2 linked regions of the Homo sapiens genome follow. The protein of the gene in region 2 purifies or fractionates together with the protein of the main gene of each other region. This does not show direct contact. Each region holds a gene or a part of one and is shown on either strand. Other genes may lie near its edges.

Region 1 (3,904 bases), on a different chromosome or scaffold from region 2:
ACAAAACACAGCAAAAGCAAAACTAAAAAAGAGCAAATAAATGTTAAATAACAAATATTTATGAAAATGCAGCCAGGAAAGAAGTCGAGAGGGACTGTGGTTCAGTTCACTTCCTCCTGAGGAGTCCACTGCTCTGCCTTTATAAGAGACGGCACTTTGCACTTGACCTTCAAACCGCCCTTAGCCGTGATCAGCCCCTTTTCAGAGAAGAACAAAAAGCCGCAGAAGCTGAAGGCCTGACCTATGTTGCGTTCCCAGAGGGCAGCAGAGCTGAGCTGGAGCCCAGCGCGTCTCTCATCCGCCCCAGGCATCTCCCACTCCATCTTGTGGGGCTGCTGCTGAACAGAGCCATCCACGTTTCTGGGCCCTCCCTGCAAACATTCTCAACCCAGGAAGTGCCCAACACACCAAGTGTCCATCAGGTTCATACTTACCAACAGGGGGCCTCCTATGGCCAAGGCCAGCACCCTGGGATTCAGGGGTTTTAGAGCCTGGGCTCTCCATCATCAAAGCCAAATGCCACACACCCTTAAGGACAGGGGGAGCAACCCAGGTGGATCTGGGGAGGATTCCTGTCAGGAACACTGTCCCCATCTCCAGCTGCCTCATGCCCACTGTCACTTGCCGCCAAGAGCAGGAACTGGCCTCCCTCTGTGCAGCGGCTTAGCTTGGTACTGTCTGCTTAAGTTCACCACCCCGAAGTGGGGCTAGGCCTCACCTGTGCTGCCTGCACCCAGAAGATGCTCAGTCAGCGTCCACTCAGTGAAGGAAGAAAAACGGTGTCTCCTAACTTCCCGCCCACTTCATTTAACTCTCCCACAAGTCAGTTAGAGACTGAGAAACCCATCAGCATGCTTTGCGCTTTGACATGTCATAGCACCAAACCCAGTCCCTGGATCTGCTCTGTGGGGCGTTTGATTTCAGGCCATCTGAGTAGACTCCCTGCTGAGAAACATCCCGCCCACAAAGCCTGAAATGCACTTTTTCAAGTCAAAACACTGTTTGCTTGGAGGCAATGCAAACACCAGCGGGCAGGGTACTCCGTCACTCCATGAGCACTGTGCCATCCATGGGCACCAGCTAACAGAGCACAGGCCATGGGCCAGCTACAGACTGCTGTAAAAGGAGAGCAGGGAGGGCAACAGGGACCGGACTCGGCTCCCTAAGCAGGCAGAGAAAGCAGCCTGGCTGGGGTGGGGAGTGCCTGGGCGGGAGGCAGGGTGGGGCACGTACCCCGGCCCACGGGCAGGGCCTCAGCGTTGCAGCACTGGTCCACCAGCTGGTGGCAGTGCTCCGTCAGGGCTTCCAGCTGGGCCTTGTCACAGGACACCCCCAGGAATCTGGCCAGCTGCTCCACCATCGTCACCAGGTCCTGGAAGACAAGTGCAGAGAGCAGAGCAGCCCATCAGAGGCGGGGCCTTTTACTGGACACGACCCCAGGCTGGGCACACGCTGAGGACTTTTTACACACGGCCTTCCTTACTTAATGCTCACAAGGCTGACATCAGCCTTGTCCAGAAATAACACTAAGAGGTTAAGAAATCGCCCAAGTGTGCTCAGCTCTCACGTGGAGATCTTGAATTCAAACCCTGGTCCTCCAGGGAATTGGGTTGCAGACATGAGGTCTTAATAGAGGTGTGGTTAAGTTTTAACAGGAGCAAGAAGTAAAAAACATATTTCAGAACATGGTTCTTGTGAGGAGCAAGACCTAATGGGCTCCTCTTTCCCTTCCTGCTGCCTGTCAGCTGGCGTCTGGGCTGGCCCTTGGGAGCGCAGGGAGGCCCCTCTGGTCTCCAGATGGCCCTGCACTGGGCAGGGAGCCCGCTTCATCACAGGCAAGATTCCGTCATGCCTGCCATACCCTGCCCCATTATTTTACCACGCCTGACAGCGGAATGTCACTGATGTGGCTAACCGTCTTGAGGGGGCCATTCCCCAGCCCCCCACCCCTGCCACTTTCTCCCCAAGAGATGAGGCTCCTCGTCTTCTCAATCACAGCCCTGAGCTGTCACCTAGAGGTGCCTTGGTCCCATTAGGAAGATGCTGGAGGCTGTTTCCTCTCTGGAAGGTTTGTAAAGCAAATTCCCGCATTAAAGCCTCTAAAAAGTCCTACAGTGAAAAGATGATTTAATTTCTTTATTGCAGCACTTCGGAAACCTTAAAAGACAATGTTCTCTGACCGCTGGTGTGGGAGTCAGCTGGTGTGGGCGCCAGCTCCTCCCTGGGTCCCCACAGTGCGCTGACTCCTGCAGCAGCGGTTGCAGGTCTGATTCTGGCCTCGCACTGCCTTCCACAGGCAGGGGTGTGGTGCATCCCGGGCGCAGGGCTTGACTCAAGAGTCAGAGGAACAGTTATTAGAGAATGAGCCAAGGAATACAGAGCTCCCTTTCCCTTGCCCTGCCACCAAGAACTCCATTTCAAAGAAAAAGGGTAGCAATGGAGAAAGAGTGAAGAAACCTGGCTCTCAGAAGAGATGCCGCAAGAAGGACACAGCTGGCTTAAAGTCAGCCTGCTGGAGCGTTCAGCAGAATCCTCGTGGGGCAGCTCACTGCGGCGTGACGTCCATCTCAGAGGAAGGGGCGTTTCTGCCAGGCTACATCCAGCAACATGTCACAGGACACTTGCTGGTTATGAAACCCAGCAGGGATCAGGCAGAACGCCCAGGTCAGCTGGCAGGAACGGCCCACTTCACCTCTCTGAGCCACACATTCCCCATCTGGAACTAGCGACAGGGCCGCAGCAAGAGGCCGCACACCACGGCACGGAGCCAGCGTGTTGGGGTCGTGCCTCCACATGGGCAGGTACTAGCTGGCCACACGGTTGCAGTCAGGGCACCCCGTGACTGGTGAGAACACCCTGCAAGATGACTGAGGATGAAGTGGGAATATACCCGGGGTGCCTGGCACAGTGCCCGGCTCGTGGGAAAGGGCCACTGTAATTGCGGTGCAGTGGAGCGCAGGCAGTGAGCGCTCTGGCAGGAAGCATTCCCTCTCAACCCCAGGGTGAGAACACATGGACCCACACCACAGTCCTGGAGACAACCATGCTCACTCGGGGCTAGTTTTCTGGAGTAAGATGTAAACAATATTAATTCCTAAAAATGTGACTTGACCTCCATTAAAACAAGCCATTACTGAGGTTCCTAAAAAAAGAATAAACCCATGCCAATTAGAAGGCGAAACGCTGACTGTCCCAGGGATGCCATTGAGTCACAGACCGGCTTTGATAGAAAATGAAGTCCCAGCACTGACCCCGGCAGCTCTTAAAGTTCCAGGCAGGGCTGGTGGCCTTGACCCTGACGGACTGAAAGCAACAGGTCTGACCACTTTCACTGGGGAGCCTGGAAGGCAGAGAAGGATGAACTTCCCTTTAAGGGCTTGGAGTAAAGTGTGTGTTTGGACCTTAAAACTTCAGTCCATCATTGCTGAGGAAACTGAAGCTCCAGGAAGAAACTGCTGACCCGGCAGCTGCCCCCGAGATGTGTGGGCAGCTGGCCAGCTGGGCGCTTTCCCTATTCACCTTCTCATGTTGGGGCCTCAGTGGCCCTGGGCAGTGCATGTTCAATGCTATGTCATTGGTGGCAAAATAGTGACCAGCTGACAAATGCACACCCAGGACCCCAGAAATTCCACTCCTGGGTATGGGCCCGATAAGCACAAGTGCTGACGTCCACCAAGACTCCAGAACGTCCACGGAGGCTTTATTCATGACCACCCCAAAGTGAAAATGGCCTCCACGCCCGGCAACACTGGATGGATGAAGCGGTGGCACATTCGTGCTGCAACGGAGCACCGACCACAGCACAGGAAAGAACAGAGCTCCGCGCCACGCAGGTGGAGGAGCCTCGCCATCTGCGCAGAAGCCAGACAGCAAAACCCATGCGAGTTCCACACCTGACAGGTTC
Region 2 (3,904 bases):
CAATGACTCTGTCTTCTAGCTGAGGCCAGCTCTGACAAATTCTTGAGGTTCTAGACTCTGTACCTGCTCTGGGGACCAGGAATGGGTCCTTCTTCACTGCTGCTGCTGCTGCTGCTGCTGCTGCTGGAGGCCTCGTCTCCACTGGGGAGCCTGGCTTGGGGGCAAGGTTGACCAGAACTTCTCTCCCCGACCAGGCTCCCTGCTTGGGAGGCCTGAGAGTTTAGCACGATGTACTTGTACTTTTTCCAGTTGCAGGCCTTGGGGTCAGGGCTGGCTGGACTGGGGGGGCCTTGACTGCAGCTTCGAGATTCAGTAGGTGGGTCTGGGTGTCCTTCGGAGCGCCTGGGACTACCTGGTGGAGGGGCCGTTGGGGGTGTTGGGGGTTCTGCTTCCAGGGGGCGCAGGGAGATGCCCAGAGGTTCATAGCTGGGGAAAGTGTGATGAACGTTAGTGCCATTTCCTAAACTCTGCCTTTGCCCTTAACACCTCACCCACAGAGAACGCCGAGCCAGGGTCCCTCACCTGGCCTGGATGAAGCGGTGGCATGCCTGGACCACGTGCTCCATCTGCAAATAGGTGGCGGCCGCTAGGACTGCTGGTGCAGTGGCTGGAGAGAGGCGCAGGCGCGAAGTGTACATGAAGTCCAATAGAGGGGCGAAGCCTCTCGCTTCGGGACCCCCGGGCAGAGAGAGCACGTCCACCCCGACTCCCGCACGGCCCCGGAAAATTGAATAGAAGAAGCCACTAGAGAGAGAGCAGATAAGTCCTTTGGGGGCTGGGGAACCAAGGGAGACATGCGCAGCTTCAGGAAGCCCCGCCCCCTGAAAAAGTCCCGCCTCCTCACTATCACCCCGCCCCCAATTCTGGGACGCTCCGCCTCCTGCTTCTGAAAGACTTGGCTTCGGATTCCCTCTCAACGGCCCTGTGGTCCCACCCCTTTCCCATTTGGCCCCGCCCCAGGCCCCACCCCTCGAACCTGCAGGCGATGAGAACTGCCTTGTGTGCTCTGAGGGGTTGCCCGCCAACCAGCAGCGTGACGTCAGTGAGGATCCCGCGCAGGCGCAGCTCGTTGAGGTTGCCCAGCACGTCGGAGGAGTGGCGAGTGAACTCGCGGACGTAGCCCAGCGCTCCCTCCGGGGCGGCGGGGGAACCCATAGCGACACAGGCCTGTAGAGGCCGTGGAAAGTGCTCTGGATCCAGGCAGTCCTAAGACGCCTTCCCTCCTCTGTTTGCCTTTTCCTTCCGAGGTGCAACTAGAGCCAGGACTTCCAGCCCCTAGCCCCGGCACACGCAGCCTCCCTCCTAATTCTTCTTGTTCATTCTGCCCTCTACGACACCCTCGCTCCCTTGCCTCTTCCAGATCCCACAGCGCTTGGAGCCAGTTGAAGGTTCCACACCGCGGCGTCGTTGGCGAGCGTGGGGAATCCCGCGCCCATCGCCCTGGGTTCGACCCCCAGTGCCCCTCCAGCACCGCCACTCCCCTCTGCGCGCCTGTGTCTCAGGTGTCCAACCCTGCCTCGAGATCTCACGGCCTGCCGTCCACACACCTCCAAATCCCAGCCGAGGCTCCCTTCCCCGAACTACGGAATTCTGCGACTCCTATCTAGTCCCCAATCCCTAGTTTAGCCCAATTTCTGGGACTCAGGCTCGCTGATGGCAAGCTCCACACAAGCTCCTACCCTCTTGGGGGACCCAGGAGTCTGGCTCCCTCAGTCTCTTGTTCTTACCCCCGTCCTGCAGGGGCCGCGGCTTCTCTTCTTAAGGGGGGCGGGGTCTCTCTCCCCTCTTGGCCTCGGCTCCTTTATCTGGCCGGGATGTCGGGGGCGGGGGTGGAGGTGGGGTGAACGCCTGGGTCTGTATCCTTCCTTCCTCCCTCGCTCTCCAGATGGCGAGTCCAGGGCGGGGTCTCCGTCTCGAGGGCGGGACCTCAGAAACAAGGGGTGGTCGTAACGTAGGGGGTCTTGGGTCACTGCAAGTGGACACGAGGACGGGGATATTGGAATTGGGGAGGAGGTTAGGGATATCGAGGTTGGCAATACGGGAGTCTGAGTCGTCGGAAGGCCTGGGCCAGTGAAAATTGGTGTGTTGGCTTTTGGGAGGGTTTGCCAGGAGCCAACCTTTGCTGCAGGACAAAGTGCATACGGCAACCCCCTCTCCCTCTCTTGTACTGTGTTAAGGGAGAAAAGGGGGAGCCCAACGAGACAGCAGGTTTGGGCAGACGACAGTGGGCTCCCGTAGGGTCTCAGACGGGGAGGGTGTGGTGTGAATGACAGGCTACTCTACCCGGGCCTACAAAAAGGGGGGCTCTGGCCGGGCGGGGTACGGAGAGGGCGGATATGATTTCTAGTTGGTTTCCTTCCATTGTCCTGCGACCGGACGGCTCCGCCAGCTGCTTCCCCTCGAGGAGGTGGGGAAAGCCCCGAGGTGGGGGTGGAGGGGCGAGAGACGCTCGGGAGACCTAGGCGTCCGGCCTCTCTCGCTCCCGACTCTCTTCTGGGTCCTTGTAGGGATCCAGAGAGATGGACTCCCGCCCAAAGCCCGCTTGCTTTCCCCCAATCCCAGCTCACGAGGGCCTCGGGCACCCGCCCGTCGGCTACGCTTGGAGGCTGGCGGGACGCCGGGGTCCAGCGCGGCAAGTAGGCAAGGCTCGGCAATGTGCGGCTCCTTCCACGAGGGGGCGGCCGAGCACTGGCCTCGCCTCGCCCCTCGTCTCCACCCGGCCTGGGGTGCGCTCAGACCCGGGCGCAGGATCCATTTGGTCTGGGCGGCTGAAACCTTTAGCCTCCTCCCCTTTGCGCGGGTTTATTTTGCACCTCTGTCTCCTAGGAGGGGACTAGGGCTGGGCGGAGGGAGCTAGAGTTAGGAGACCGAGGGGACTTTCCCCTCAGGCTGGGGTTCCTACCCGAGGTGAGAAATCGCGGGCTTTAGGAGCCAGGGGAATGGGTGGGACAAGAAGCGGGACCTGAGCCTGGGAACTCCGGGTTTTCTTTTCGAATTAAGCTAGACACTGCTACCCAGATGTCTTTGGAGGTGACTTTTAATTGAACATTAAAATTGGGTGGGGTAAACGAGAAGGGAAAACAAGGAGGAGGGAGAGAGGGCAGGAGGGGGCTTAACCACCCTAATTTGAAGTCCCTGATCTGAGAGATGGGCATGGATCACACCCTCATATTTTGTTTCGGGAGACATTGCGGGCAGGCAAGGCAAAGCTCATTTGGAGAAGGGGTGCTAGAGCTGAATCCAGCTGCAAGGCAGAAGCTCCCCGGATTTGGGCTGGGGAGAGTGTACAGTTGGCCAGGAATGGCCGACCATGGTCCACGGGGCTGGATATCAGGCCCGGGGCCCTCCCCTTCAGACCGGAGTGTGTCTTTATTTGAATGCATGAAAGAACAGCTGAGAAACCGGGAACTGGGAAATTCAGGACGATGAGGTGGCTTTGACATGTGAGGGTTATTTAGGTCTCTGCCCAGCTTGGAGATGAGAATTAGACTAGGGGCTCTCCCTTTGGCATCAGGATGGAGTATTATTTGATCAGTTGTGGGGTGTCTGTTTATTATGGGGTGTTGATTTGATTGTGAGCACCGGTGGCTGCATTCAGCCTTTGAGGCCTATATGGTAAGTTTCAGGTATGGGGCTGACTTGGAAGTTACATTAGTTCTGGGGGTTCTGACACCCACAATTTGGAGATTGTGCTCACCTGTGTCATCTTGGACTATCAGCAGAACCAAAGTACTCATGCTGATTTGGGGGTGCAGTCTATTTTGGGGTGCCATCTAAGTTTCAAGGCTCAGATTAGATTTGGGGAATAAGTTCAATTTGGAGTTTTAAAAATTAGTTTGAGGTGGAACATTATAGGAAGCTGGGAGCAAGTTCGAAGCTTTCTGTGATTGGGGGTCCTGGGAGG

What was found.
Region 1: the proteins of BCL6B (region 2) and SULT4A1 purify together in Homo sapiens (affinity purification with mass spectrometry; 3 studies listed by BioGRID and IntAct, with this or other methods). This does not show direct contact.

Annotation. Positions count from the first base shown.
Region 1 is NC_000022.11:43,827,827-43,831,730, forward strand, and holds part of SULT4A1 (sulfotransferase 4A1), read right to left. Parts: intron 1,373-3,904; coding exon 1,234-1,372; intron 1-1,233. UniProt on the Homo sapiens protein: Atypical sulfotransferase family member with very low affinity for 3'-phospho-5'-adenylyl sulfate (PAPS) and very low catalytic activity towards L-triiodothyronine, thyroxine, estrone, p-nitrophenol, 2-naphthylamine, and 2-beta-naphthol.
Region 2 is NC_000017.11:7,020,923-7,024,826, reverse strand, and holds the start of BCL6B (B-cell CLL/lymphoma 6 member B protein), read right to left. Parts: upstream 1,778-3,904; 5' UTR 1,728-1,777; intron 1,168-1,727; 5' UTR 1,156-1,167; coding exon 977-1,155; intron 745-976; coding exon 523-744; intron 427-522; coding exon 64-426; intron 1-63. UniProt on the Homo sapiens protein: Acts as a sequence-specific transcriptional repressor in association with BCL6. May function in a narrow stage or be related to some events in the early B-cell development.